Regions from separate parts of the Homo sapiens genome. Here regions 1, 2 and 4 are each linked to region 3. The links come from fine-mapping of genetic effects on gene expression. A gene starts in region 3. Each other region holds a variant in brackets. All regions are shown on one strand. Distances are from middle to middle. Region 1 overlaps LOC100132077 (a long non-coding RNA gene). Region 2 overlaps ZNF169 (zinc finger protein 169). Region 3 holds the start of ZNF169 (zinc finger protein 169). Region 4 overlaps FBP1 (fructose-bisphosphatase 1).

The links. PIP is the estimated chance that this variant, and not a neighbour inherited with it, causes the effect. A credible set is the group of variants that fine-mapping cannot tell apart.
Region 1: its variant is the best candidate, but not a certain one, in a credible set for the expression of ZNF169 in skeletal muscle (FUSION, PIP 0.87).
Region 2: its variant is the best candidate, but not a certain one, in a credible set for the expression of ZNF169 in tibial nerve (GTEx, PIP 0.76).
Region 4: its variant is the best candidate, but not a certain one, in a credible set for the expression of ZNF169 in nasal epithelium (TOPMed, PIP 0.87).

What each region holds. Positions count from the first base shown.
Region 1 is chr9:94,349,947-94,357,926 of GRCh38, forward strand. All of the region lies in intron 2 of LOC100132077 (a long non-coding RNA gene), which reads left to right. Among named protein-coding and RNA genes, the nearest start is that of SLC71A2, 21 kb to the right of the region's middle. The variant C/A (reference allele first, on the strand shown) is at 4,123.
Region 2 is chr9:94,291,734-94,299,713 of GRCh38, forward strand. ZNF169 (zinc finger protein 169) reads left to right here. Exons shown (of 5, transcript NM_194320.4): 3 at 608-734; 4 at 1,241-1,336. Among named protein-coding and RNA genes, the nearest start is that of NUTM2F, 33 kb to the right of the region's middle. The variant A/G (reference allele first, on the strand shown) is at 4,074.
Region 3 is chr9:94,254,579-94,262,558 of GRCh38, forward strand. ZNF169 (zinc finger protein 169) reads left to right here and starts at 4,720. Exons shown (of 5, transcript NM_194320.4): 1 at 4,720-4,767. LINC02603 (long intergenic non-protein coding RNA 2603) reads right to left here and starts at 4,733. Exons shown (of 3, transcript NR_160773.1): 1 at 4,533-4,733. RefSeq lists enhancers at 4,239-4,884, 4,723-5,042, 4,885-5,531, 5,073-5,202, 5,532-6,177.
Region 4 is chr9:94,609,767-94,617,639 of GRCh38, forward strand. FBP1 (fructose-bisphosphatase 1) reads right to left here. Exons shown (of 7, transcript NM_000507.4): 4 at 155-295. Among named protein-coding and RNA genes, the nearest start is that of FBP2, 20 kb to the left of the region's middle. RefSeq lists an enhancer at 209-708. The variant T/A (reference allele first, on the strand shown) is at 5,145.

The DNA.
Region 1 (7,980 bases), 95 kb after region 3:
TCTAGCCTGGGCGACCAAGAGTGAAACTCTGTCTCACACACACACACACAAAAAGACACTATCAAGTTACAGAAATCAAGGCAGTGTGGTATTGGAGAAGACTTAGACATATAGATCAATGGAACAGAATGGGACCCACACATAGATCCTCACAAATATGGCCAATTGTTTTAAATTGCGGTAAAATACATGTAACATAAATTTACCATCGTAACCATTTTTAAGCATACAGTTCAGTATGGTTTAATATATTCATATTGTTGTGCAGCTAATTTCCAGAACTTTTTCGTCTTGCAAAACAAACTCTATTTCCGTTAAACAACAACTGCCCCTTTCTCCTTTCCCCAGCTCCTGGCAACCCGCATTCTACTTTCTCTTTCTATAAGCTTGACTATGTTAGGTACCTCATATAAGTAATCATACAGTATTTGTGACTGGCTTATTTCACTTAATGTAATGTCCTCAAGGTTCATCCATTTGTCAGAAATTCTTTCCTTTTTAACACTGAATAATATTCTCTCGTTTGTGTATACAACATCTTGTTTATCCATTCATTCATGCATGGACACTTGGGTTCCTTCTACCTTTTGGCTATTGTGAATAATGCTGCTATGAACATGGGTATACAAATATCTGTTCGATTCCCTGCTTTCAATTCTTTTGGGTATTGTTGTACTGTGAAATATATATTTGGTCTTTGTTCCAATTTCCTGGCATACAACTCCTAAGATCCTTGGAATCTCCAAAGTGATGTCTTTTTGTGTGCTAATGAGTTGCCAGATGGCTGGCAGCTCCTAGGTAGCTTCAGGATGGGGGCTGGTCACCAGAAATGATTAGACGGTTGGGACTTTTGGCCCTACCCCCATCCTTTAGAGAGGAAAAAGGGGCTCAAGGTTAAGTTGATCACCAGCGGTCAATGGTTTAATCAATTATGCCTACCTAACAAAGCTTCTATAAAAACTGCAAATGACAGGGTGTGGGAAGTTTCTGAATAGTTGAACTCATGAAAGTTCCTGGAGGGTGGCATGCCTGGGAGGGTATAAAAGCTCCACGTCTATTTTCATCTCTTACCCTAGGCATCTTTTCATCAATACCCTTTGTAATATTCTTTATAATAAACTGGTAAATGTAAGTTAAAAGTTAAGTGTCTTCCTGAGTTCTGTGAGCCACTCTAGCAAATTAATCGGACCAGAGGTGGGGATCCCCCATTTATAGCCAGTCAGTAAGAAGTGCAGGTAAAGCAACCTGGGGCTTGCAATTGGCATAGGAAGTGGGGGGCAGTCTTGTGGACTGAGCACTCAACCTGTGGGATCTGATGCTCTCTCCAGGTAGATAGTGTCAGAATTGAATTGAATTAGAGGACACCCAGTTGGTGTCCATGCTGCAGAGCTGGTTACTTACTTGGTGTGTGGGGAGAACCCCATACACATCTGGTGTCTGAAGTACTCTGTGTTGGTGAGTATAGCAGGATAAATCAAGTTTGGTTATTATTAGTAGTATATGTTATTTAGCATACATTATTATTAATATACACCCAGAAGTAGAATTGCTGGATCATAGTGTAATTCTCTCTTTAATTTTTTGAGGCGCCACCGTACTGTTTACCTTAGTGGCTACACCATTTTACATTCTCATGACAACAGTGCTCAAGAGTTTCAGTTTCTCCATATTCTCAGCAGTGTTACCAAAAAGGGGTCCTGACCCAGAGCCCAAGAGAGGGTTCTTGGACCTCTCCCAAGAAAGAATTCACACAAGCCCATAGAGTAAAGTGAAAGCAAGTTTATTAAGAAAGTAAAGGAATAGGCCGGGCACGGTGGCTCATGCCTGTCATCCCAGCACTTTGGGAGGCCGAGGCGGGTGGATCATGAGGTCAGGAGTTCGAGACCAGCCTGGCCAACATGGTGAAACCCTGCCTCTCATAAAAATACAAAAATTAGCTGGGCATAGTGGCACATGTCTGTAGTCCCAGCTGCTTGGGAGGCTGAAGCAGGAGAATTGCTTGAACCCAGGAGGCAGAGGTTGCAGTGAGCCAAGATTGCGCCACTGTACTCCAGCACTCCAGCCTAGGTGACAGAGCAAGACTCAGTCTCAAAAAAGAAAAAAAAAAGTAAGGGAATAAAGAATGGCTACTCCATAGGCAGAGCAGCGGCATGGGCTGCTTGACTGGAGTATACTTATAGTTATTTCTTGATGATATGCTAAACAAGGGGTGGATTATTCATGAGTTTTCTGGGAAAGGGGTGGGCAGTTCCCAGAAATGAGAGTTCCTCCCCTTTTTAGACCATATAGAGTAACTTCCTGACATTGCCATGGCATTTGTAAATGGTCATGGTGCTGGTGGGAGTGTCTCTTAGCATGCTAATGCGTTATAATTAGTGTAAAATGAGCAGTGAGGACCACCAGAGGTCACTGTCATCACCATCTTGGTTTTGGTGGGTTTTGGCCGGCTTCTTTACTGCAACTTGTTTTATCAGCAAGGTCTTTGTGACTTGTATCTTGTGCTGACCTTGTATCTCATCCTGTGACTCAGAATGCCTAACCTCCTGGGAATGCAGCCCAGCAGGTCTCAGCCTTATTTTACCCAGCTCCTATTCAAGATGGAGTTGCTCTGGCTCAAATGCCTCTGACACCAGCACTCATTATTTTCTGTTTTTTGTTTTGTTTTACAGTAGTCATTCTGATGGGTATGAGGTGATGACCAATTGATTTTTGACAGAGGTGCAAAAGTAATTCAAAGGAGAAAGGACAGTCTTTCCAAAACCAGTGTTGGGATAATTAGTCATCCTGCAAAAAAATGAACCTTGACCTAAATTTCACCTTATACACAGACTAACTAAAAATTGATTTTACACGTAAATGTTAAAATTCAAAGCATAATATTTAAAAAAGAAAACAGAAGAAAATTTTCATGAACTGAAGTTAGACAAAAAGTTCTTAGATATGATGTCAAATGCCTGATCCACTAAAAAACATGACAAATTGGATTCATAAAATTTAAAACCCATGCTCTGCAAAATACACTGTGAAGAGAATAAAAATACACACCACAGACTTGGAGAAAATGTTGAGAAATCACTTATCTGACAAAGACTAGTATTCAGAGTATATAAAGACCTCTCAAAACTCAACAGAAGGAAAATAGAGTTTAAGTAAAAAATGGGTAAAAGACTTGAGCAGATACTTCATCAAAGAAGTTATATCGATGGAAAATAAGCACAAGAAAATATTTTCAACATCATTAGCTATCAGGAAGTGCAAATTAAAACCATAGTGAGGCTGGGGACAGTGGCTCATGCCTGTAATGCCAGCATTTTGGGAAGCTGAGGCAGGAGGATTGCTTGAGCTCAGGAGTTCCAGACCAGCCTGGCCAACATAGTGAGACCCTGTCTCTACTAAAAATCAAAAATAGCTGGGCATGTCTCTACTAAAAATAAAAAATAGGTGGCATACCGCTGTAGTCCCAGCTACTTGGGAGGCTGAAGTGAGAGGATTACTTGAGCCCTGGAGATTGAAGTTGTAGTGAGCTATGATAGCACCACTGCACCCCTGCCTGGGTGACAGAGTGAGACCTTGCCTCCCAAAAAACAAACCAAAAAAACCATAGTGAGACACCACACCATCAGCTAAAATAGAAAAACTGACCTGACCAAGTGATGTGGAGAATGTGGAGTAACTAGAACTTGCACACATTTCTGGTGGGAATGGAGAATGATGCAGTCACTCTGGAAGAACACTTGGCAGCCTTTTATAAAGTTAAACATATACTTACTATATGACCCACCAGTCCCACTCCTAGGTATTTACCTTAGCAAATGAAAAGTTACGGCCGGGTGCGGAGGCTCATGCCTGTAATCCCAGCACTTTGGGAGGCCGAGGCAGGTGGATCACAAGGTCAGGAGATCGAGACCATCCTGGCGAACACGGTGAAACCCCCTCCCTACTAAAAATACAAAAAATTAGCCGGGTGTGGTGGTGGGCGCCTGTAGTCCCAGCTACTCGGGAGGCTGAGGCAGGAGAATGGTATGAACCCAGGAGGCAGAGCTTGCAGTGAGCCGAGATTGCGCCACTGCACTCCAGCCTGGGCGACAGAGCTAGACTCTGTCTCAAAAAAAAAAAAACAAA[C/A]AAAAAAAAACCATAAAATTAAAAAAAAGAAAAGTTATGGTCACATGAAAACTTGTATAGCGGTGTTTCATAAAGCTTTGTTTGTAATACCCCCAAACTGGAAACACTGAAAACTTCTCCCACTGGTAAATGAGTAAGTAATCTTTGGTACATCCATACAGTGAATGGAAGACTACCCGGCAAAAAAAGGGACCCAGCAACTTGATTGATCTCAAAGGTAACATTCTGAGTGAAAGAAGCCTGTCTCAAAAGGTTTACATATTGTATTATTTCATTTATGACAACCTCAAAAAGATGCAACTATAAATGTTAGGCAACAAATCGGTGGTTGCCAGGAGTTAGTGGGAGAATGTGGCCTTAAGGGAGCAGCACGAGGGAGTTTCTTAGGGTGATAGAGCTCTTTTGTATCTGCATTGAAGCAGTGGCTATATGAATCTGTGTTTTTTAAAACTTCAGGAACTGGCCAGTCATGGTGGCTTATGCCTGTAATCCCAGGACTTTGGGAGGCCGAGGCTGGAGGATCACTTGAGCCAAGGAGTTTAAGACCAGCGTGGGCAACATGGCAAAACCCCATCTCTACAAAAAATAGAAAAATTAGCCCGGTGTGATGGTGCATGCTTGTAATCGCAGCTACTTCGGAGCCTGAGGTGGGAGGATCGCTGGAACCCAGGAGGGGGAGGCTGCAGTGAGCTGTGATCATGCCAGTGTACTTCAGCCTGGGTGACAGTGAGACCCTGTTTCAAAATAATAATAATAATAATAATAAACTGATAGAACTGTACACAAGAAAAGTCAATTTTACTGTAGGCTAACTTAAAATTAAAATATATAAAATAATGTTTACATGAATACAATAAAAATGTTAACATAAATAACAGTTATGCAAAAAATAACTTCACAAAAGAATTTCCAAAAGAAAAAAGTTATAGTGAGAAGAATGACATTGTTTTACAATTTTGCAAAGAATTTTTTCTGCCTTAACAGAAGACACAGGATTCAATTGTATATATGTAATTCTATGTATCTTACAGGCTCAGCAAAGCTCTACTCATTGTCTACACTCATGAGACAATGAAAGTAAATTAGACAAGTCATTCCCAGTATCTTTTTTTTTTTTTTTTTTTGAGATGGAGATTCACTCTTGCCCAGGCTGGAGCGCACTCACGTGATCTCAGCTCACTGCAACTTCCACCTCCCAGGTTCAAGCAATTCTCCTGCCTCAGCCTCCCAAATAGCTGGGATTATAGGTGTTTGCCACCACACCTGGCTAATTTTTGTATTTTTAGTAGAGACAGGGCTTCACCAAGTTGGTCAGGGATCCTGACCTCCAGTGATCCGCCTGCCTCGGCCTCCCAAAGTACTGGGATTACAGGTGTGAGCCACTGCGCTCGGCCCCAGTATTGTTTTGAGAATACTTTTGACCTCATAGACCGTTCTTCTAAAAAAAGATTTGGGGATTCTCCAGGGTTCCCTATGCCACACTTTGAGAACCACTGGCCTATGTTATAACTTTGCACTAAAGGAAGTACTTTTCTTCTTATGATTGGTTTTAGGGAAAATATTACTTTATCCTTCATAGAAAAAAATCATTTAACATATTTATTGATTGAATTATGATATATAGTCATAATTTTAAAAGTCAAATTCAGATGTTTCTTTTTTTTTTTTTTTTTTTTTGAGACAGAGTTTGCCCAGGCTGGGGTGCAATGGCGCGATCTTGGTCACTGCAACCTCCACCTCCCGGGTTCAAGCCATTCTCCTGCCTCAGCCTCCCAAGTAGCTAGGATTACAGGTGTGTGCCACCATGCCCCACGCCCAGCTAATTTTTGTATTTTTAGTAGAGACGATGTTTCACCACGTTGGCTAGGCTAGATATACAGATGATTCTTATACTTAAATGGTCACTTTGTTTATGATTTCCAGCAATAACCAGCCCTAGGAACCTTAAAAAACCTTCCTTAAAGTTTTTTTTTCAGGCTGGGCGCAGTGGCTCACGTCTGTAATCCCAGCGCTTTGGGAGGCCGAGGTGGGAGGATCTCCTTAGGTCAGGAGTTTGAGACCAGCCTGGCCAACATAATGAAACCTCGTCTCTACTAAAAATACAAAAATTAGCCAGGCGTGGTGGTGCACATCTGTAATCCCAGTTACTCGGGAGGCTGAGGCAGGAGAATTGCTTGAATCTGGGAGGCAGAGGCTGTAGTGAGCCAAGATTGCACCACTGCACTCCAGCTTGGGCAACAGAGAGAGTCTCTGTCTCAAAAAAAAAAAAAAAAGTTTTTTTTCAATTATAGGAGAGTAGATGTTTTCACCATATGAGAGTAATGACTTACAAATTATTTACTGTCAAAACTATAACATAGCCATTTCTTTTTTTTTTCCACCCCGAGACGGAGTCTTGCTCTGTTGCCCAGGCTGGAGTGCTGTGGCCTGATCTTGGCTCACTGCAACCTCTGCCTCCCTGGTTCAAGCAGTTCTCCTGCCTCAGCCTCCTGAGTAGCTGGGATTACAGGCGCACACCACCATGCCCAGCTAATTTTTGTATTTTTAGTAAAGACGGGGTTTCACCAGGTTGGCCAGGCTGGTCTTGAACTCCTGATCTCATGACCCCTGACCTCATGATCTGCCTGCCTCAGCCTCCCAAAGTGCTGGGATTACAGGCATGAGCCACCACACCTGGCTGCCATTTCTTTTTTAAAATGAATAATGGGATTTCTTGTAAGGAGTGGCCTATCATGGGTGAAAAGATGCTTGTATACCCCATTTCAGGTTATACTGCAGTGTTTGTTTTGTTTTGTTTTGTTTGAGACAGGGTTTTGCTCTTGTTGCCCAGACTGGAGTGCAATGGTGCGATCTCAGCTCACTGCAATCTCTGCCTCCCAGGTTCAAGTGATTCTCCTGTCTCAGCCTCCCGAGTAGCTGAGATGACAGGCATGCACCACCATGCCTGGCTAATTTTTTGTATTTTTAGTAGAGATGGGGTTTCTCCATGTTGATCAGGCTGGTCTCGAACTCCTGACCTCAGGTGATCCCCCCGCCTTGGCCTTCCAAGGTGCTGGGATTACAGGCGTGAGCCATTGCACCCAGCTCATACTGCACTATTATGTGAGCAGTACTATTCTTCTTGGAAGCCATTTGCTGTCTATAAGTCAGAAAGTTTTACTTCCTAAGAAACTTCATGAAATCTATAAGCAGCTTCTTTGAAGATGGCCTTTTGTAATCTGCATATGACCCCCGATTCTGAAACTGACTAGGACTGATTGCAGCATCAGGAAGGAGGAATTTCCTGCCTCTGTGAGGGTTGGGCAATGCAGAGGTTGGGGCAGGTGCCACCACCCTGGGGCTTAGACTCAGTTAGTTTGCCTGGGACCCAGCTCTGTGAGCTTAACCAATATCTCAGAGTAAAGGCTATTAAATAGGACAATCTGATCTGGTCTAAACTAATTTTGGCCTGGTACAATGGCTCACACCTGTAATCCCAGCACTTTGGGAGGTCAAGGTCGGAGGATTCCTTAAGCCCAGGAGTTTGAGACCAGCCTGGGCAACGTGGCAAAACCTCATCTCTACTAAAAATAAAAAATTAGCGGGATGTGGTGGCACACACCTATAGTCCCAGCTACTCAGGAGGCTAAGGTAGGAGGATCACGTCAGCCCGGGAGGTTGAGGCTACAGTGAACCAAGACGGTGCCACTGCACCCCAGCCTGGGAGACAGAGGAAGACCCTGTCTCAAACAAACAAACAACACAAGAAAATCCCATTATATTTGGAGTTGGCTGTGTTTCCCTCAGTAGGCAGGTTCATTATTGAGAGTTGGAGGCTTACCATCTAGCTAACATTTGTGGATGGTTAGACTGCTTTTC
Region 2 (7,980 bases), 37 kb after region 3:
AAGCTGAAGAAATTCTTAGGTGTAAATCTAACAAAATGTGTAGGGTCTGTTTGCAGAAAATCACAAAATGTTGATGAAAGAAATCATAGACGGTCTAAACAAATGGAGAGACATACTGTGTTTATGGATTTGAAGATCCAATATAGTAAAGATGTAAGTTCTCACCAAATTGATATACAGGTTTAATGGGAATCCTATCAAAATTTCAGCAAAGGCTTTTAGAGATATAGACAAGATTATTCTAAAATTTGCATAGAAAGGCACAGGCACAGGCTATTTTAGAATAGCTAAATCAACTTTCAACATGAAGAATAAAGTGAGAGGAATCGGTTTACCTGATTTCCAGTCCTGCTATGTAGCTGCGATAATCAAACTTGTGTGTTTGATCAGCACAACAGAGAGCCCAGAAATAGAACCAGCATCAGTGTATGGAGGGGATTAATAGTCTTGAATATATGGAACCAGGTTTCAGGTTAAAAGCAGGATCTGTAAATCTCACTTGGGTGCTCTAGGACTGCTTCTTTCTGCCTTGACTGTGGTTAGTGGCTTAAGTTGGTTAGTGGGCATGGCTGGCTGTTGAGTGAGCAGGGATGTGTTTGTGTTACAGGCATTGATGGCCTTCCGGGATGTGGCTGTGGCCTTCACCCAGAAGGAGTGGAAGCTATTGAGTTCTGCTCAGAGGACCCTGTACAGGGAGGTGATGCTGGAGAACTACAGCCATCTGGTCTCCCTGGGTAAGGCTGGCCTGTTTAAGGTTTCAGATTCTGCTTGTGGGTATTTTAAGCTCTTACATAGCAAGCTGCCATGCTTCTGACTCAGAAAAACAGTTTTTTCCCCTATTCCCCCAGAGAATGCCTGGCTTTCACAGTGCAGTTGTGTGTGTGTGTGTGTGTGTGTGTGTGTGTGTGCGCGTGCACATGCTGTGAGCGTGTGGTGTGTCTGACACTGCATTTTTCAGGCCTGTTTACCCTGGCTGGGCTCCTCCTCTAAGGTTATCCTCCTTCAAAAGGAGGAATATTTTTATTGACTCAAGCACAGGGTAGAATCAACATACTGCCTTTAGGTCTAGGATCCCCTCCCTGTATGCATCCTTTCTTAGCATTCAGACATAGTTTACTCCACCCCTGCACCTCCCTACCACCTTCTGGGTTTATTGCATTCCTGGGTTGGCTCTGAGTTCTGAGATAGCCTCTTAAGCCACTAACTCAAGATCACCTTGGTTTTTTTTTCCTGTGAGTAGGAATTGCATTTTCCAAACCAAAACTCATCGAACAGCTGGAGCAAGGCGACGAACCTTGGAGAGAGGAGAACGAACATCTTCTGGACCTTTGTCCAGGTGAGTGGGAAGCCCTGGGCAAGCGAGGGTGCAGGGCAGTGAGGAGCTCAGCAGGTAAGGAAGGAGGGGCTATCTTTGAGGTGCTAGGAGGAAGTTCTTCTTCAGGCCTCCTAGGCCACTGGTAAAGGCTGCATGGCACTGCCTGCCTTCCACACTGTGTGCCTCCCCCCAGGACAGGGCACCCCTGGCATTCCATCTCCTTCCTCCATCAGGGAGCCTCACTCCTCACTTGGCTTCCTTTCTCGAGCACATTCAGGATTTCTCCATTCTTGGGCTCATGTGGTTGGCATGATCTTCAAAACAGTACCTGTCCTTTGAGACTAAGTCCCTGCCCCTGGTTTTTTATTTTTATTTTTATTTTTTTTGAGACAGAGTCTCGTTCTGTCACCCAGGCTGGAGTGCAATGGCATGATCTCGGCTCACTGCAACCTCTGCCTCCTGTGTTCAAGTGATTTCTCCTGCCTCACCCTCCTGAGTAGCTGGGACTACAGGTGCCCGCCATCATGCCCAGCTAAATTTTTTTGTATTTTTAGTAGAGATGGGGTTTCACCTTATTGGTCAGGCTGGTCTTGAATTCCTGAGCTCAGGCAATCCATCTGCCTTTGCTTCCCAAAGTGTTGGGATTACAGGCGTGAGCCACCACGCCCAGCCAGTTTCTATTCTTAACCTGGTAGCTTTTTTGTGCATCATTTCTATCCTGTAAATTCTCATAACTTTGTTTCTTTTATCATAGATTATTTAAGATTACAGCAAGGTGTGAAAAACTGTACAATGAGTAGGGTTGGGGCAGCCCTGTACCCTAAGAGATAGCATGTTATAAAACCAGGTAATAGCCCCATACTTTTCCTGATTGTGTCCCGTTCCTCCGCCTCTGTTTTCTGAGTTAGCATTCCATGACTGTCTTTATCCTTTTATTCCATCTGATGGGTTCTTCACTCATATAGGGTGTTGTTTTGCATGTCTGTAAACTTCTCTGCACATAATGTTATTAAGTTGTTTCCAACTTTTTGGCTATGAAATAATCTTGCTCTGTATTCTTGTATGCCTCCTTGGGAACATGTCCAAGAGTTTCTCTTAAAATATATACCGGCCAGGTGCAGTGGCTCACACCTGTAATCCCAGCACTCTGGGAGGCCGAGGCAGGTGGATCACGAGGTCAGGAATTCGAGACCATTCTGGCCAACATGGTGAAACCCCGTCTCTACTAAAAATAGAAAAATTAGCTGGGTGTGGTGGCGCATGCCTATAATCTTAGCTACTTGGGAGGCTGAGGCAGGAGAATTGCTTGAATCCGGGAGGCGGACGTTGCAGTGAACTGAGATTGCGCCACTGCACTCCAGCCTAGGTGACAGAGCGAGTCTCCATCTCACAAAGAAAAAAAAAAAGATATATACTTAGGTGTGTAGTAGCTGGTTCACAGGCATGCATAGCCTCAACTTATATAAGTTATGCCAACTTGTGTTCTGAAGTGGGCATGGCAGCTTATGCTCCCAGCAGGAGTCTATGAGAATTCTTGTTGTACATCCTCACCAACATTTGGGATTGTGAGACCTCATGTTTTATCCATCTATTCAGCTGGAAGTGAAATCTCAGAGGGGTTTTTAAGTTGCTTACTAGTGAGCATGAGCATCTTTTCATATGTTGCTTGGCCCTTCCTGTTTCCCCATCTGTGATTTGACCATTCAAGGTGTTTGCCTACTTTTCAATGGGTCTATTCTTTTTGTTATTGATTTGTAGAAATCCCATATAAATTATGGAAACATTTAGGTCTTTAACTGGAATTAATTTTATATGAATGCTGGGAGATAGAAATAAATTTTTGCCTGCTTTATCTTCTTACTTGTTTATTTTCATGGTTTCCTGGCATTTTATTTTTGTTTTATTTTTTGCTTTTAAATGTAACTATATAGCTGGTATTACACTATGTAGCAACTGAGTGCTTTTGTCTTTTTAAAAGCATTTCGTTATATAAAAATGGGGTGGGCACAGTGGCTCACGCCTGTAATCCCAGACTTTGAGAGGCTGAGGTGGGTGGATCACTTGAGGCCAGGAGTTTGAGACCAGCCTGGCCAACATGGCAAAATCCCGTCTCTACTAAAAATACACAAATTAGCCGAGCCTGGTGGTGCATGCCTGAAATACCAGCTACTCGGATGGCTGAGGAGTGAGAATCGCTTGAACCTGGGAGGCGAAGGTTGCAATGAACTGAGATCACACCACTGTACTCCAGCCTGGGCTACAGAGTGAGACTCTGTCTCAAAAAAAAATAAAGTAAAATAATGATAAAAATGTTATTAAGATACAGCAATTAAGGTATATTATAAGATATGTTTTTTAAGGTATAATAAACTACACTTATATAGGTGTGAAATTTGGTTAGTTTTGGCATATGTATACATGCATGAAAGCACTGCCACAGCTAAAGTAACAAGCATGTCTGTCATCCTTGAAAATTTTCTTTCGCCTTACTGTAATCCTACCTCCCACTCCTTCCTGTCCTCCCCTGTACCTGGGCAACCACTGATCAGCTTTCTATAATTATAGATTTGTCTGCATTTTCTAGAATTTGTATAACTGGATTATACAGGATACAACTGGATTCTTCACTCAGCATAAGTATTTTGAATTTTATCTATAATGTGTGTATCAATAGTTTATTAATTTTTATTGCTGAGTATTCCTTTATATGTCTAGGTCACATTTTAATACTGACCTATTAAAAGGTATTTGGGTTTTC[A/G]TTTTTGACAAATATAAATAAAGCTGTTTTAAGCATGCAAGTTTTTGTGTGAATATAATGCTTTCATTTCTGTTGAATAAATACCTGGGACTGGAATGGCTGGGTTGTATGATGATGGATACAATATATATTCAACTTTTGAAGAAACTCACAAACTGCTTTCCAAAGTGGCCGCACCATTTCACATTCCCACAGCAGTGTATGAGAGCTCCAGGTGTTCCATATTTGTCAAAACTTGGCTTGGTTATTAATTTCAGACATTCTTATAGCTGTGTAGTGAGTGGCATCTTACCGTGGTTTTAACATTTTCTTAATGACTGATGATGTTGAGTATCTTCATGTGCTTATTTGCTATCTTATATCTTCTTTAGTGAAGTACGTTTTCACATCTTTTGCCCATTTAAAAATGTGGTTTCTTATTTTTGTATTATTGAGTTTGAGAGTTCTTCACATATTCTATGTAGAAGTCCATTATCAGATATATGATTTACAAACATTTTTTCTGTGGTTTACTTTCTATAATCTTAATAGTGCCTTTCAAAGAGAAATTTTAATTTGGATGAAGTCCAGTTTTCAATCTTTTCTCTTATGAATTGCAGTTTTGGTAGTGTATTTAAGAAATTTTAGTCTAAAGTAAGGTCAAAAAGATTCTCATTTTTTTCTTTTAGTAATTTTACAATTTTTAATTACATTTAGGTCTATAAGCCTATTTTGAGTAAATATACTTGATAAAAGATCTGAATTTATGTACTTTTTTAGGGGAGGAAGGGCATACAAATATCCAATTTTTCCAGCACCATTTATTGAAAACACTACCCTTTTTTAACTGAATTTCCTATGTATCTTTGTGGAAGATCAGTTGACCATATGTGATAGGTCTATACCTGGACTCTATGTTTTTTCTACTCCTCTGTTAGTGTCTCTATGCCAATACCACAGTTTTGATTACTGTAGCTTTATTAGGTCTTGAACTCACTGTAAATCCTCCATCTTCTTTGGGAAGCTTAGGCAGGCGGATCACAAGGTCAGGAGTTCGAGACTAGTCTGGCCAACATAGTGAAACCCCATCTCTACTAAAAATACAAAAAAAACTAGCCGAGTGTGGTGGTGCGCACCTGTAATCACAGCTACTCGGGAGGCTGAGGCAGGAGGATCGCGTGAACTCGGGAGGCGGAGGTTGCAGTGAGCCGAGATCACACTATTGCACTCCAGCCCAGGCAACAGTGCGAGACTCCATCTCAAAATAAAATAAAATAAAATAAAAAATCCTCCATCTTTGCTTTTTTTTGCAAGTTCTTTTCGTTATTCTTTGTTTTTTCATATGAATTTTAGAATCAGCTTGTCAGTTTTTAACAAAAATGCCTGCTGAGATTTTGATTGGGATCGAGTTGAATCTGTATCAATTTGTGGAGAACTTACACATAAATAATACTGTGTCTTACAGTACGTGAACACAGTATAGCTCTCCATTTACATAAGACTTCTTTCATTTTTGTCGGCATTGTTTTGTCATTTCTGGTATACAGGCCTTACATATCTCTTGTCAGATTTGCCCCTAAGTATTTCATATTTTGATGCTATTTTTAAGTGTCAATTTTCAGTTGTTTATTGATGGTATGTAGAAATAAAATGGATTTATGTATAGTGATTTTGTATGCTGTAATCTTGCAAAACTCACATCTTTTTCCACTGGAATATTTTAATATGAAGGACCTTCTCTGTATTCCAGATGGAATGTGAATGGCAATCCCTAAAGCTGCTGAAGTTCCCTCTTGCAGATATGATCTTACTGACTCTAATCAATGATACAAAGAGTTTTTCTTAGGAATAGTATGGTCAAAAATAAGAAATACGTATTTTGTGATTAAAAATAGTTAACAAATAGAATAACATATAAATCAGTATTGTATTTATAATCGTCTGCCTTGAACCAAGGGTCTTCTGTTAAGTAGTTTAATTCCATTAAATTGTTCACTTCTGTTCTGATAGGGCACTTGAAACCCTGATTCAGTTTCTTGCTATGGGTTGCTACTTGCCAGGTACATTTCTGATCAATGCTCTTAAAAATTTGTTCCAGGGGCTGGGCGCGGTGGCTCACGCCTGTAATCCCAGCACTTTGGGAGGCCAAGGCAGGCGAATCACTTGAGGTCAGGAGTTTGAGACCAGCCTGGCCAACATGGTGAGACCCTGTCACTACTAAAAATACAAAAAATTAGCCAGGCGTAGTAGGTGCGCCTGTAATCCCAGCTACTCAGGAGGCTGAGGTGGGAGAATTGCTTGAACCCAGGAGGTGGAGGTTGCAGTGGGCTGAGATAGTGCCACTGTACTCCAGCCTAGGCGACAGTGCGAGACTCCTTTAAAAAAAAAAAAAAAAATTTGTTCAAGGAGACTCAATTTCTAATCTGAGTTAAAAAGCAGGAGTCTTTAAACAAAAGTAAGATAAAAAAGATAAACTAGCCATGAATAAGAAAATGCCTTATTTTTCTCTTACCAAATGCTTTGCTTATTCACTACAGCAAACAATTTCAGAGATAATGAAAGCAGACTTCTCTATTGAGGGCTGTCCCATAATGACTCATAAGAACTTAGTCCTGCCGAGCGCAGTGGCTCATGCCTATAACCCCAGCACTTTGGGAGGCCGAGGCAGGCGGATCACCTAAGGTCAGGAGTTCGAGACCAGCCTGGCCAACATGGTGAAACCCCGTCTCTCACCTAAGGTCAGGAGTTCAAGACCAGCCTGGCCAACATGGTGAAACCCGATCTCTACTAAAAATACAAAACTTAGCCGGGCATGGTGGTGCACGCCTGTAATCCCAGCTGCTCAGGAGGCTGAGACAGGAGAATTGCTTGAACCAGAGGTTGCAGTCAGCCAAGATCACGCCACTGCACTCCAGCCTGGGCAACAGAGCGAGACTCTGTCTCAAAAAAAAAAAAAAAAAAAAGAACTTAGTCAATAATTACCTAGGAGTTACGGTATCAACTTACGGAAGCTGAAAGCACTGCCAATTTCCAGAGCCTTTAATTTATACCATCATGGGAATTAGTGTTATCTCCAATTGGCAGCCTATTTAAACCTAGAAACAAAATTTTTTGAAAAAGTCAATTTGTATAGTTTTAACAGTTTTTGTGCATGGATAAGAATATGCTTAAGCCGAAATATGTATAATCCCTGAAACATCTTTATGCTAATGAGAAGTCATCTATTATTAACTTTCAAACGCTGAGCTTCTCCTTAATTCACCAGATTTTTTTAAAAATCCTGGATTATTGAGCAAAACAGTGTACGTAGTGTTGTGCAATGCTATTCGGGGAATATACTTGGCTGCAGTCTTCCCAGAGGCTAGAGGACAGCACCTTCATTTGCCCGGAGGGCAGCATCAGGGATTCCTCTTCTTCAAGAGGACTTAAGGGTGTCCATACAGTTCAGGAGACAACTCACATCAGGCTGATATGGAAGCTCCCTGGCCTAAAGCCTATTCCACACAGGAGCCAGTATCTCTTGCTACAGCTTATCTGATTCGTGGGTGCCCCTTACTTGAGTCACCACAGTCAAGGAAGCCCAAAGCATGGCTCCCCTTCAGATGCTAAGATCTTATTTATAGCACCTTCAAGATCATAATCAGTCTGTTTCTTAACTGCAGCTCAGACACCAAGTTCTTGGCTCTTGCATAAACAGCAGGCCGAACAAATGTTTCTCAGGCAAGGTTTAATAGGCTTGAGCTGGAGCAAAAGCAAGGGAGCGGCGCCCAAGAAAGGAAGATAAATGTGTAACTCTACTTGCAGCAATTTATAGAGCTGAAGCTGCCTGTGATGCTTTTTTGAACCTTTTAGTTTGGCTGATAGGACTAGTTTGTAGTGTGGGTTTTCTGTGCTGCAATAGAGCATGTAATGTGCCCTTGTGGGTTGG
Region 3 (7,980 bases):
GATTACAGGTGTGAGCCACCGCGCCCACCCATCATCTGCTCATTATTATTCTTTTCCCTGCCCTCTTTTGAATTGAGTATTTTTAATGATTTCATTTGTCCTTTGTTGGTTCATTGGGTATATGTTGGTTGTGTTATTTCAGTTATATCTTTGAGTTTATATTACACATCTTTAATTTACCACAATTTACCTTTGGTGGTATTATACTATTTACACAAAGTAGAACCTTACAACAATGTGCTTCCATTTCAGCCCTGGCCTTTCTGTTATCATAGTTACGCATTTCACTTCTATATATATCATAAACATCACAATACCTTCTTATTACTTTAAACAGTTTATTATGTATTAAAGCTATTTAAATAGAAACACAGCTTTTACATATTCTTTCTAGCATTTTTCATTTCTCTGTGTAGATCCTTATTTCCATCTAGTATCCTTTTCCTTTTGATTGAAGGACATCCTGTTTTTTCACTGGGTAAAAAATTCTAAGTTGATACATTGGCTTTTTTTTTCAGTGCTTTAAAGATGTTGCTCCTTTTACCTTGCTTTTTTTTTTTTTTTTTTTTTGAGATAGAGTCTCACTCTGTCACCCAGGCTGGAGTGCAATGGTGCGATCTTGGCTCACAGCAACCTCCGCCTCCTGGGTTCAAACGATTCTCCTGCCTCAGCCTCCTGAGTATCTGGGATTACAGGTGCGCACCACCACTCCCGGCTAATTTTTGTATTTTTGGTAGAGACAGTGTTTCACCATGTTGGTCAGGCTGGTCTTGTACTCCTGACCTTATGATCCACCTGCCTTGGCCTCCCAAAGTGCTGGGATTACAGGCGTGAGCCACCGTGCCCGGCCGCATTTTTTATTGAATGAAATCTGCTGTTATCTTTGTTCATTTGTACATAATATGTCTCCTCTTTCTGGCTTTTTAAAACAAGTTTCTTTATAGCTGCTTTTAAGCAGTTGTACCTTGGTGTTGTTATTTTCATGTTTCCTCTGCATAGGCTTCACTGAGATGCTTTAATCTGTTGGCTTATAATTTTCATCACATAATTTTCATTTGAGTATTTTTTATCCCTGTTTTACTTTGAATAGTTTCCCCTTCCATGTCTTCAGGCTAACTTCTTTTTCCCCTGAAATGTCCAGTCTGCTGCAATACCAACTGTGTCAGTCAAAGTCTTCCAGAGAAATAGAACTAATAGGATATATATATATAGAGAGAGAGAGAGAGAGAGAGTGAGTAGGATATATGTATATATAGGATATATAAAGAAAAAAGTAATAGGATAGGAAAAAACTAATAGGATATATGTATCTGTATATATATATATATATATGTGTGTATATATACATATATATATTCTATCTATTGATCTGTTTATCAAGTGTTTATCAAGTGGGAGAGAGTGACTGATTTATTTAAGGGATTGGCTCATGCAATTGCAGGGGCTGGCAAGTCTGAAATCTGTAGGGCAGGCAGGCTGAAAATTCAGGTAAGAGTTGATATTGCAATCTTGAGTCTAAAATTCACGGGGCAGGACAGCAGGCTAAAACATCAGGGAGGATTTCTGTTAGAGTCTTAAGGCAGAATTCCTTCTCTGGAAACCTCAGATTTTGCCGTTAAGGCCTTCAACTGATTAGATGAAACCCTCCCACATTATGGAGTGTAATCTCCCTTAAAGTCAACTGACTGAAAATGTTAATTACACATGTAAGATATCTACATGGTAGTATCTAGACTACTACCAAATAATTGGTCATTATAGTGTAGCCAAGTTGACATGTAAAATTAATCATCATACCATCCAGTATGGCATGATGTATAGAAAAACCCTTCTTGAAGTGTTTCCTGTAGCTTCTTGAAGTTGTAGTTATAATAAATGTTTTAGTGCTCTTATCTTGGTTTTTTTTTTTTAGACAGGGTCTCGAAGTGTTTCCTGTAGCTTCTTGAAGTTGTAGTTACAATAAATGTTTTAGTGCTCTTATCTTGGTTTTTTTTTTTTAGACAGGGTCTTGCTAGGGTCTTGCCCAGGATGGTCTGGAACCCCTAGGTTTAAGCAATTGTCCCAATCGTTTTAAGCAGCCTCCTAAGTAGCTGCAACTACAGACGCATGCCACTGTGCCCAGCTTGTGTCCTTACCTTTTAATTATATCTTCTGTGTAATTTCTATTGGTTGACTTTTCTCTTCATTTTGGGGAATATATTCTTTGCATGCTAGCATTTTTTTAATTGGAATTCTAAAATCCAGGGTCTTAGGATGGAAGCAGGTGTAAGAATAGAAAAAAAAAAAAAAAGTCCCCAATTTTGCCTTATTGGATGCTGGATAGTTTTGTATTCTTTTAAATATTCTTGAGCTTTTTATCTGGGATGCAGTTAAGTTACTTGGGAACAATTCAGTCCTTTCTAGGCTTGGATTTAAGCTCTGTTAGGTGAGACCAGAGAAGCATTTAGGTTAATTTTTGCCCCACTATTGAGGCAAAACCCTTCCGAGTACATGACTTGATGCCATGTGAATTAGCATTTCCACTCTGTCTCGTGGGAACAGACATTATTCCTGTTCTTTTTGAGCTCACAGTATTGCCCTCTAACCCTTTCTAGTGTTTTTTACCCCTAATTTTGAGGAGTTTCCTCACATGTACATGCTGGTCAGCACTTAACTAATACCTGAGGAAGAGGACTCTCTGCACATCTCTGGCGCTCTCTCTCCCTTTCTGTACTCTGCCCTGTGAACTCTAGATGCATATGCCTCCTCAGATTCCCAGTTCCATCTCCTCAAGTTGAACTCCATGCTTCACTTGAGTTTCCCTTCTCTGTGCTATGACTTGGAAATTCTCTCCATCTGCGGGAAGTTCAAAGGCTCACCTCCATGATTTCCACTGCTCTTCATTGTCTGATGTCAAATGTCTTCAAATGTTTCATATATTTTGTCCTTTTAAATGTTGATTAAGGTGAAGGGCTAAATCTGGTTCCTGTTACTTCATTTTGAGAAGAAGCAAATAGGAAGTAACTTAAAAATACCACTTTTTATCAAATTCTTAGAAAAAGAGTATAACTCATTTTGCAAAGACTTTGGTATGTTTTTGAGCGTATTATTCTGTTACATCTAATAAACAATCTTTGCATTAGTAAGATAACTTTAATTGCTATAGTGTTAAATGTCCTCAAGTTTAGTTTTTCCTTATCTTCTTGTAATCAATTGGAATTAAAAAAAAAACTTCAGAATCTTCTTCTTTATAACAGGAAAAAAAACCCCAGTATTTTTGGCATTTTTAGAAGTACATTCATACACACTGTCATTTAAAACATGGGGGTGGGAGGTGGAGCAAGATGGTGGAATGGAAGGCTCCACTGATCATTCCCCCTTGTAAGAAAAACAAGTTAACAACTATTTACACACAAAAGCACCTTCACAAGAACCAAAAATCAGGTAAGCACTCGCAGTACCTGGTTTTTACTTCATATGACTGAAAGAGGCACTGAAAAGGTAGGAAAGACAGTCTTGAATCACCAATGCCCCTGACCCATCCCCCAGCAGTGGCTCTGTGGTGCGGAGAGAGAATCTATGTTCTTGGGAGACGGCAAGCACAGCAATGATGAGACATTGCATTGAACTCAGTGCTGCCCTGTTATACCAGAAAGCAAAACTGGATCAAACACAGCTGATTCTCACGCATGGAGGGAGTATTTACACCAGCCTTAGCCCGAGGAGAATCACCTATCCCAGCAGTTGGAATTTGAGTTACTGCCAATCTCACCACCTCTGGCTAGAGGGCCCTAAATAAACTCGAAAGGCAGCCTGGGCCACAAGGACGGCTCACGCCTGTAATCCCAGCACTTTGGGAGCCTGAAGTGGGAAAATTGCTTGAGGCCAGGAGTTCCAGACCAGCCTGGTCAACATAGCGAGACCCAGATTCTTTTTTTTTTTTTTCCCCCTTGAGAAGGAATCTCACTCTGTTGTCCAGGCTGGAGTACAGTGGTGCGATCTTGGCTCACTGCAACCTCCACCTCCCGAGTTCAAAGTGATTCTCCTGCCTCACCCTCCTGAGTAGCCGGGACTACAGGCGCCCATCACGACGCCCAGGTAATTTTTGTATTTTTAGTAGAGACGGGATTTTACCACATTGGCCAGGCTGCTCTCGAACTCCTGACCTCTGATCCGCCCGCCTCAGCCTCCCAAAGTGCTGGGATTACAGGCGTGAGCCACCGCGCCCGGCCGCGAGACCCAGATTCTAAAAAACAAAACAAAAAATTAGCCCGGTGTGGTGCTATGCACCTGTATTCCCAGCTACTCAGAAAGTTGAGGTGAGAGGATTGCTTGGCCAGGGGTTTGAGGCTGCAGTGAGCTATGATCACACCATTGTACTGCAGCCTGGCCGACAGAGCAAGACCCCTTCTCAAAAAATAAGTAAGTAGATAAAGTTCAGGGGTGTACAATCACAGGTGTGAATTTGCAGGATGGAGGACATGTAACATCTTTTTAAAAAAAAAAAAAATTAGAAGGACCGTATAAAAAGTTAAAGAAGACTTACTGCTCACCTGACCACCCTTCTCATAGACCCGAAAGTTAGATTTTACTTTCTGATTTTTCACAATTTCTCCTGGATGCTGCGGTCCCGCCCCTCGCAGCATTCTGGATGTTGTAGTCCCTCGCTCCAGGGCATCCACGGTAGGGTAGTTGCGCGCCCCGTGGCAGTCTGGGTAGTGTAGTTCCGTGCCCAGGGGCAGTCCGGCTCGCGTACTTCCGCGTTCCGGCATCGTCGCCTGGTGCGTGGTGAGTGTCCTTTCACAGTTCTGGTGAGCTAGCCCGGAGGTGGTCCCCGCTTTCGCGGGCCTTCCACTGGAAGGAAGGTCGGGAAAGCTGGCATGGGCAGTCCATGTCGTGGCCACATGTTCCTTGGTGTTTTGAGTTTCGGCTGTGGGGTCTGGGCGTGCGTGGTCCACCCCGGAGAGAGGTCTTGGCGGAGGTCCTCTGGTGGGGAGGGGGCGTTGGCGTTGTCGCGTGCTTCTGGCGGGACTTTGGGCCCAGTATGTTGACCTGGAGGGGCCAGTGCAGGCCTGGGACCGACTTCCCGAGCTACTTCGCAGGTGCGTCCCCGGTACTTCGGGGGCCGCTGAGTGGGCTCTGCCTGGGGTACCCAGACAGCATCCTGCCACTAGTATCCCGCCATCCCCTCCCCACCATCGCGCCTCGGAGGTCTCTGGGCCAGCAAATGTGCCTTTGGAGGACATGATATCCTCGGTTGGAGCAAACTTCCCCATTAGTGGGAGGCACGCGGCTTGGGCATCAGTCGGGTTGTTTATTTGTTTATTTATTAAATTTTATTTATTTATTTATTTATTTTTGAAACAGAGTCTCTCTCTGTCGCCCAGGCTGGAGTGCAGTGGCGCAATCTCGGTTCACTGCAATCTCCGCGCCCCACCCCAGCCGCCGGGTTCAAGCCATGCTCCCGCGTCAGCCTCCCGAGCAGCTGGGATTACAGGCACCCGCCACCACGCCCGGCTAATTTTTTGGTTTTTGTTTTGTTTTGTTTTTTTGAGACAGAGTTTCGCTCTTGTCGCCCAGGCTGGAGTGCAGTGGCGTGATTCCCCTGCCTCAGGCTCCCGAGTAGCTGGGACTACAGGCGCACGCCACCACGCCCGGCTAATATTTTGTGTTTTAGTAGAGACGGGGTTTCACCATGTTGGCAAGGCTGGTCTCGAACTCCTGACCTCAAGTAATCCCCCCGCCTCGGCCTCCCAAAGTACTGGGATTACAGGCGTGAGCCACCGTGCCCAACCTCAGTCCAGTTATTAGGGCTCTTGTGGATGGCTGGTGCACTGTGGTGGTGATGGTGCAGCTTGGCCACTAGGACCCGGGTTTGTGGGGGAGGATTGTTTGTGGGTAGACATCCAGACTTGGTCTTGATAGTGGGGGGGGGGACGGCTAGGGCCGTGCGACTCGGGTCAGTAGCCTTGGGGCCTGGGGACCCAAGTTGGTGAGTTGAGAAGGGCTTGCCTGGAGTTAGACATCCCTGGGTTGTGGGTTGCATGGGGGCGTGCTTGTATCCAGATTGTCGGCTTCTGCAGCTGTGTGGCTCCCTCGGACTTGGGGACCCTTCCGGGAGCATGGGTTGCAACAAGCAGAATGGTGCCCATAGGGCCAAGGAACATTTTTCTCAAGCCTCAGGGGGCTGTTGAGTGACTCCTTGAATTCCTGGAGGTGGGGGAAGAAGTTGGGTGGAAGGCATCCAAACCTACATTTTTTTTTTTTTTTTTTTTTTTTTTGAGATGAAGTCTCACTCTGTCGCCCAGGCTGGAGTGCAGTGGAGTGATCTCAGCTCACTGCAACCACGGCCTCCCGGGTTCAAGCAATTCTCTGCCTCAGGCTCCTGAGTAGCTGGTACCACAGGCGCCCGCCACCACGCCCGGCTAATTTTTTTTGTATTTTTAGTAGAGACGGGGTTTGTTTTTTGTTTGTTTGTTTGTTTGTTTGTTTTGAGAGGGAGTCTTGCTCTGTCGCCAGGCTGGAGTGCAGTGGGGTGGCGCGGCGCGATCTCGGCTCACTGCAAACTCCGCCTCCCGGGTTCAAGGTATTCTCCTGCCTCAGCCTCCCGAGTAGCTGGGACTACAGGCACGCGCTACCACACCTGGCTAATTTTTGTGTTTTTACCATGTTGGCTAGGATGGTCTCGATCTCCCGACCTCGTGATCCGCCCGCCTCGGCCTCCCAAAGTGCTGGGATTTCAGGCGTGAGCCACCGCACCCCGCTCGAGACGGGGTTTCACCATGTTGGTCAGGCTGGTCTTGAACTCCTGACCTCCTGATCCACCGGCCTCGGCCTCCCAAAGTGCTGGGATTACAAGCGTGAGCCACTGCGCCCGGCCAAGACCTACTCTTATTTCTAACTTCTCAGTATGAAAACATTGCAAAGATATCCAGAAGTAGTTTTGAAGTTCCATGGATTCATCACTCAGATTCACCACTTACAAATGACTCACCTGTCTTCTTTCCCCCAAATCTGCAACCCCAAGTGTGGATCTCTTTGGAAATTGTCTCTTTCACTAGGGGTCTATACCAGGATTTGGTGTCTTGAGTGACCCTTCATAGAGTGAGTTCAAATCCAGGTCTCTCCCTTTGTCACTGTCACTTTGAGCAAGGTACTTAACCTCGTGGAGCTGCTGTGAATGTAGAACGAAGTAAAACTTGTGTATGACACTTCTCTGATGTAGTTCTTTAAAACAAAATTCAAATGTCATATCATTTCATCTGTAAATGGCAAAAACCACAATTACTTTTGCACCAATCTAATACTTCAGTGTTCAGTATGCATCTCTCATAAATAAGGAATTTAAAGAAAAACAACTTCAGCATTAATGATCATACCCAAGAAAATTAACAGAATTTATTTAGTATCACTTATTCAGGCTGTGTTGTTTCCGTATTTGTCTCAAAAGTTGCCTCACTACAGATATTTGTCCACTACAAAGCTTTCCTGAGTTTTCTCTGGCAGAATTACTTCCATTGTCCTTTTTAGTTTCAGAGCACTTTATTATATGAGGACTCCACGGCTGGCATGGTATATCTCAACTGTCTGACTGTCCCACTGGTTTTGAGATAGTTCTTTGAGGGGACAGGCACCTTGTCTGGCTCCTCATGGGTCACTGACACAGTGCTTGGCACCCACCTGGACTGTGCAACTGACTGACTTTGAGGGTATCAGTTGTCTTTTTTGCCTGGAAAAGGAAGTTCATGGAGGATAGAAACTCAGATGGGAAAAGGGGGTTAGGCTATTACTGGGGAAAGCCTAGGGTGCCAAGATTGTGTGTGGATCTTATCTGAGGTCAGCGAGATCTACTGCCGGGTTCTGACAAGAGAAGGGTCATGATTTCTTTTTTTCTTTTCTTTTGTTTTTGTTTTTGTTTTGAGACAGAGTTTCACTCTGTCGCCCAGGCTGGAGTGCAGTGGTGCGATCTCGGCTCACTGCAACCTCTGCCTCCCAAGTTCA
Region 4 (7,873 bases), 360 kb after region 3:
TGGTCTCCTGCCCCCTTTCCACCACACATCATCATCTCTGTCCCTCCATGGGCATCACCTCCCACCTCCACATACCCCTGCCAATCCCCCACACATATCATTCATTTGCTCACAGACACCAGCCAAGCCCCCAGCCTCCTGTGAGGTCTCTCACCGGGTCCAGCATGAAGCAGTTGACCCCACAGTCCATGGCAAGGACCAGCATGGTGGCACTGCCATACAGTGCGTAGCCGGCTGCCACCAGGTTCCGGCCTGGTTGCAGAGCATCCTTCTCAGAAGGCTCATCAGTTGATTTCTAGAGCAAGAAAGAAATCAAAGAATGTTTTTGTTTTGTTTTGTGATTCTTTTTTACAGTTCAACCATTAACAGGAGGCATTCTCAAGGTGCTCTTCTAATGAAATAGGGCATCTTCCCAGAGGGGCCTTCCCCTACACATCAGCAATATCCTGATTAGATTATCACGGCAGCCTTCCCACCAGAACCCAGATTTCCTGCATCTGGATTCCTCTTTCCAATTAGGGCCCTCCTCCAATTTTTCTAATGTGATATTCCCTCATCTCTCCACTATCAGTTCCAAAAAAGAGCATGCCTTCTTGCCAGTTCCCACTAATTTAATCTTATTACGGGCATCCATCTCTGTCACCTGCCTACTCCATCTTTATTTAAATAAATTAACACTGGGCTGCAGGGCAGCCAGTCTGCGGAGGAAATCAGTTTTGTGAGCTCTTGCCGCTGCAGCCCATACTCTGCTGAGCATGTGGTCTATATCACTCACACGTCAGGGAAATTCTCAGAAACGTAGGAACTCAGAATATCTCCCCAGAGTCATTATGGGGTAGAGCAGATGCTGTCCAGTGTTTTAACCGTGATGCATGGGAAGAAGCACATTTTACATCACAAACCAGTGCCCCCACACACACACCAAAAAGTTACCAAAATAATACCTACACTTAGAACGTGGCATGTGCCGTAATCCATTTTTTCATTAAAAACACAGCCCACTGGGTCATGTGGTCCAGAGTTTTTCTAACACTAGGGAAGGGAGCCCCTTAAGGAGACAGCTCCTAACCACTGATTTCTTACTATTAATGATTTTCTTCTTTTTTTTTTTTTTTGACACGGAGTCTCGCTCTGTCGCCCAGGCTGGAGTGCAGTGGTGCTATCTCGGCTCACTGCAAGCTCCGCCTCGCGGGTTCACACCATTCTCCTGCCTCAGCCTCCCAAGTAGCTGGGAGTACAGGCGCCTGCCACCACACCCAGTTAATTTTTTGTATTTTTAGTAGAGAGGGGGTTTCACCGTGTTAGCCAGGATGGTCTCTATTTCCTGACCTCGTGATCCACCTGCCTCGGCCTCCCAAAGTGCTGGGATTACAGGCGTGAGCCACTGCGCCCAGCCTGATCTTCTTTATTAACACTGGATTGACCTCTTTGGTCATCAAGACAGCCCCAAACAAATCTTTCAGCTTAACTACTCTCTGCTTGAATTAAGCAGAAATAAAAATATGCAATTTCTCGAACTTCACTTATTCTTTTCCTAGATTCCTGCAGCTGAGCGTAAGCAGGGGCATCTGTATCACGCAGCTGGAGAAGGAAGTCATCCCAGCAAAACATTCCAGGTAATTTCTTCCCATAACTTTCAAAAGGGTGGCCCACAGAGCACCTGCATTAGAATCACCTGGGATATTTATTAAAAATGCACATTCACAGCCGGGGTCATGACTCATCCCTATAATCCCAGCACTTTGGGAGGCTAAGGTAGGAGGATCATTTGAGGCAAGGAGTTTGAGACCAGTTTGTGCAACACTGGGAGACCCCATCTCTACGAAAAAAAATTTTTTTTTAATTAGCCAGGCATGGTGGCATGTGCCTGTGGCTACTAAGGAGGCTGAGGCTGGAGGATCACTTGAACCTGGGAGGTCGAGGCTGCAGTGAGCCATTATCATTCCACTGCACATGCCTGGGTGACAGAATGAGAACCTGCCTCTTTAAGAAAAAGAAAAGAAATGCATATTCTGGGGCTACAGCCTAGACACACTGTCAGACTTTCCATGGCGGGGCCTGAGAATCTGCATTGCACTATGCAATGTGAAGGGGTGACCTTCACACTCAAGTGTAAGAACTTCACATTCAAGCATAACAACTACTCATATAAATGAGAAAACCACAAACCAGAAAACCACAAACCCATTTCTTTCCACCGCTTCCCTGCCCCTCCTAGTTTTCACCTGGGGAGGTGGTTAGTTAGCTGGTTGCACTGGGTTATTTGATTCAGTTTGGTTTGTATTCACCAGACAGTACAGTGGAGCTAAACACAGACTAAACTTACAGGATCAAAACTTTGAGGGAATAATTCCAAGTTTTGCCAATGCACAACCTTGAAAAATGAAATTAATGGCCTTTGTCAACATGCGCTGCCTGTCAGAGGCTCATTTTAACAATCACCAGCTTCCCTTGAAGCCAGGTACACAGTGGGTGGACTCAGGACTCTAACTCTCCTCTCCTCCCACTGCAGGCTTCAAGTAACCAGTTCTCTGCCAATAAAGGCCCCTTTTCCCAGAGATTCACCTCGCCCAGAACCATCCGTGCCGGCCTGTGGCAAAGGTGCAAAAGTAAACAGCCCTTCCCTGACATACGGTCACCAAATGCTCTACATTTATACACTTCCTCGCACGGAATAAAAAATAATAGTAATACTTGTCTATGACCCACATACTCAAAACGAAGAGAAAATTATCCCACTGAGCCATGGATTTGGAGGAATTCTTTTCTAGCCCAGCCCCCAATTTTTTTTTTTTTTTTTTTTTTTTTGGAGACAGAGTCTTGCTCTATCGCCAGGCTGGAGTGCAGTGGCACAATCTTGGCTCACTACAACCTCCACCTCTTGGGTTCAAGTGATTCTCCTGCCTCAGCCTCCCAAGTAGCTGGGATTACAGGCGCCCACCACCACGCCTGGCTAATTTTTTTTTTTATTTTTAGTAGAGATGGGGTTTCACCATGTTGGCCAAGATGGTCTCGAACTCTGGACCTCAGGTGATCCGCCTGCCTCAGCCTCCCAAAGAGCTGGGATCAGCCCCCTTTCTAATTCCTTCCTCCAAATGCTCAGCAATGCATGCCTTTCCTCCAAGGGAAACATATTCCATTCTCCTGCAGATGCCCAGGGACCAATGAGCACGGAGCACTTGGCAAAATCAGAAACCTCTGGACCCTTCCTTTCTCTGCCTATCTGAGGCCACCACCTGCTGTAGGCACTGGCTCCATGTCATCACATATTATTCCATGTCATCACATAAGGAGAAGTAGGCACAGAAACGGAGGGCCTGGGGGAGGAGAGACTGTCACGTCCACAGTGGTCTTTCCTCGGAGCAGAAACCAAACCCTACTTTTCTGAATCTCTGCTTTTGTGGTGGGAGCTGTAAAGGACATTGCAAGTTAGAGTATGTCCAGTAGAGGGTGATCAGGCTAGAGAGAAGTCTCAGATCCCTCTCCTGTGAAAGATGTTCAGCTTAAAGGGAAAAAAAGTGGGTGTGGTGGGCATTATTGGGAGGGCAGAAACACTGTTTCCAAACATGTCAAAGAATCTTATTTTCTTATGCTCTAAACAGCCAAGTGAGCAAAATGAAACAGATTTCAACTCAATATTTGGACAAACCATGATGGTTACCCAGCATTGCAGGAGAATTCGCCCTGTCAGGATGTCTCCAGCCAGACACTGGTGGGGCCAGGCACCGTGGCTCATGCCCGTAATCCCAACACTTTGGGAGGTCGAGGCGGGAGGATCGCCTCAGCCCAGGAGTTCAACACCAGCCTGGGAAACATAGCGAGACCCCCTTGTCTCTACAGACAATACAAAAATTAGCCAGGTGTGGTGGTGCACCTGTAGTCCCAGCCACTCAGGAGGCTGAGGTAGGAGGATGGCTTAAACCCGGGAGGGTGAGGCTGCAGTGAGCCATGATGGCGCCACTGCTCTCAGCCTGGGCGACAGAGTGAGACCTTGTCTCAAAAAAAAGAAAAAAAAGAAGAAAAAAAAAAGGCCGGACGCAGTGGCTCACGCCTGTAATCCTAGCACTTTGGGAGGCCGAGGCGGGCGGATCACGAGGTCAGGAGATTGCCACCATCCTGGCTAACACACGGTGAAACCCCGTCTCTACTAAAAATACAAAAAAAATTAGCCAAGCGTGGTGGCGGGCGCCTGTAGTCCCAGCTACTCGGGAGGCTGAGGCAGGAGAATGGCGTGAACCCGGGAGGCAGGGCTTGCAGTGAGCCGAGATCGTGCTACTGCACTCCAGCCTGGGCGACACAGGAGACTCCATCTCAAAAAAAGAAAAAAAGAAAGAAAAAGGAAGAAGGAAGAAAAGGAAGAAGAAGAGGAGGGAGAAGGAGGAGGGGAAGAAGGCAGAGGAGGAAGGGGGGGACGAGGAGGAGCAGGGGGAGGAGGAGGGAGGGAGAAGGGGGAGGGACAGGGAGAAGAAAGAGAAAGAATAGTAGTAGTCGTGGCCGGGCGCGGTGGCTCACGCCTGTAATTCCAGCACTTTGGGAGGCCGAGGTGGGCGGATCACGAGGTCAGGAGATCGAGACCATCCTGGCTAAAACAATGAAACCCCGTCTCTACTAAAAATACAAAAAATTAGCCAAGCGTGGTGGTGGGCGCCTGTAGTCCCAGCTACTCAGGAGGCTGAGGCAGGAAAATCGCTTGAACCAGGGAGGCAGAGGTCGCAGGGAGCTGAGATGGCGCCACTGCACTCCAGCCTGGGCGACAGAGAGAGACTCTGTCTCAAAAAAGAAATAGTAGTAGTCGGTAGGCCCTGGAAAGATGCTGTGGCAGGAGCTGCATGCAACATGACCACACATCCTTCCACGTGCCTTTCCAGGAATCGTGTAGCAAGGCCTGGTCACCATGGCAGGGTCACAGTTACTGATGCTGCCCCACTGGGCGTGGGCACCATGGTGCGATTCTAGCCAACAATCATCTCTGCAGAAAGCAGGAAAAATCCCCTTGGAAGCATTATAGATGTCTATGTTTATGCCTCATGAGCCCTCAACTGGTTTCAGCTGTTTCAAGCAATCAATAAGGCTTCAAAAAACTGAAATGACTTAGAGGTCTGTGTCATACTCATCATCACTTTCTTTTTATTAATTAATTAATT[T/A]ATTTATTTATTTTTTGAGACAGAGTCTTGCTCTGTCACCCAGGCTGGAGTGCAGTGGTGCGATCTCGGCTCACTGCAAGCTCCGCCTCCCAGGTTCACACCATTCTCCTGCCTCAGCCTCCCAGGTAGCTGGGACTACAGGGGCCTGCCACCACACCCGGCTGATTTTTTGTATTTTTGGTGGAGATGGGGTTTCACCGTGTTAGCCAGGATGGTCGCAATCTCCTGACCTCGTGATCCGCCCGCCTGGGCCTCCCAAAGTGCTGGGATTACCGGGGTGAGCCACCGCACCAGGCCCCACTTTCTGTCTTTTAAAAAAGTCACTTCTGGTTCATTGAGAAGACAGCCGAGCCTTATTGTTGAGAATTCTGTCATTCATAATTCAAGCTGCTGTTGCAAGCTGGCTTGATTTTTTTTTTTTAGTTGATAGCCAATGTCTCTCAATTTCCCAGGTTTTTTTTCCTTAAAAAGTATTATTTGGGGGGACTGAGATGGAGAATGGGCTTAGTAAACATCAACACTGCTTTAGTTGTGGTTAACACATTAGCCAGATGTCTTCCTCTGCAAGGAAGAATTTTGCTACAAACCTCTCCTGCTATTCTGTGGATTTGATATTTTGCAAGGAAAATTGCATTCTTCCATGTCTACAACAGAAATGGTATGTTCCTTGGCATGACTTGGAAAATGGATAAATTGTTGCCTTTTTGCCTTTCTAGTATGAGAATTTGAATCTTCTATTCCTCAAACTGATTGTGATGTGGATCTGCCTCTTACCCAAGATAAAAAGCAAAATACGTTCCAATGACCAAAGATAACTGTGCCATGGGGGCTCTACTTTTCACATATTTGAAAGGAAATTATGTATAATACTAGACAATAAGTCACTTTTAGAGATAAAGTGCAAATTTGGGTCTCAGTTCTTTTTTTTTTTTTTTGAGACGGAGTCTAGCTCTGTCACCCGGACTGGAGTCCAGTAGCGCGATCTTGGCTCACTGCAACCTCCACCTCCCAGGTTCATGCCATTCTCCTGCCTCAGCCTCCTGAGTACCTGGGACTACAGGCGCCCGCCACCATGCCCAGTTAATTTTTTGTAATTTTTAGTAGAGACGGGGTTTCACCGTGTTAGCCAGGATGGTCTCAATCTCCTGACCTCATGATCCGCCCACCTCGGCCTCCCAAAGTGCTGGGATTACAGGCGTGAGCCATCTCGCTAGGCCAAGGGTCTCAGTTCTTAAGTTAATGCCTTTGTGTCCTAGAACAGAGTTCAGCTGAACCAACCTCTTCAGTCGATTCCAGCCTGTGAGGTTTCAGTTCTGAAATAAACAAGAGCTGAATATAGAATGGTATGGTAGACTTTGGAGACTTAGAAGGGGGTGATGGGAGGGGATGAGGGATAAAAAAACTGCATATTGGATACAATATATACTATTCTCGTGAGGTATAAACTAAAATCTCAGACTTCACCACTATACAATTCATTCATGTCACCAAAAACTATTTGTACCCCCCAAAGCTGTTAAAACTATATATATATATACTTTTTTTTTTGAGACGGAGTCTTGTTCTGTTGCCCAGGCTGGAGTGCAGTGGTGTGATCTCGGCTCACTGCAACCTCCACCTCCCAGGTTCAAGCGATTCTCCTGCCTCAGCCTCCCGGGACTACAGGCGCCCACCACCATGCCTGGCTGTTTTTTTGTATTTTTAGTAGAGACGGGGTTTCACAGTGTTAGCCAAGGCAGTCTCAATCTCCTGACCTTGTGATCCACCCACCTCGGCCTCCCAAAGTGCTGGGATTACAGGCGTGAGCCACCGCATCCGGCCTAAAATATATACTTTGAAAAAATAAAACAAAACAAGAGCTAAAGCTAAGAGGATGTACCTTGGATTTTATCATGTTTCCTGATGGGTGGATGGGTTTTCATTCTATTTTTCACTTATTCGTATAATTGAGCACCTCTCCCTCTCCCTCTCCTCCCTCTCCTCCTCCTCCTCCCTCTCCTCTCTCTCCTCTCTCTCTCTCTCTTTCTCTCTCTCTCTCTCTCTCAGAAAAAGCAGCTCTGGAGGAGGGGTGACTGCCCGAGTCAGGTGTTAGGAGACCCGAGCAGGGCTGGATTCTCATCCTATGCTGTGTGCTTTCTACGACTTAGAGCAAAGCTCAGTAAACTGTTTCTACAGACAGACAGATAGTAAATTTTTCAGTTTTATGGGCCATACAGTCTCTATCATAACTACAAAACTTTGACAGTGCAGCAGAGAATCAGCCAAAGGCAGTATGTGAAAAAATGAATGTGACCAAATGCCAATTAAAGCTTCATTCGTGAAGAGTAAAACTTAAAATGGATCACGAAACTTTGTTCTTTAGTTTTTTTCAACTATTTAAAAATGTAAAAATGGTTATTCTTTGTTCACAGGCTGTACACATTAGGCCACAGGCTGGACTCAGCCCGGGGCTCATAGCTTATAGACCATTGACTAGGGGACTTAAAGGACAGTTTTGACATAGTCTCTATTGTTGTCTTACACTCTCAACTCTGAGTTCACATCGTATCATCACTATACTTACCCTCTACTGCCTCTTTTTTAAATCTCATTTTCTATCATAAAAAGTAAGACATAGTAAAAAGAGTGAAATATCCTTCTCTTCCCACCCATATTTTACCCTATATTCTCTTTCAACAATCTAGTGGGTCTTCGTCATGCAATTAGTGCTGAAAAGCTCAGAACTTGAG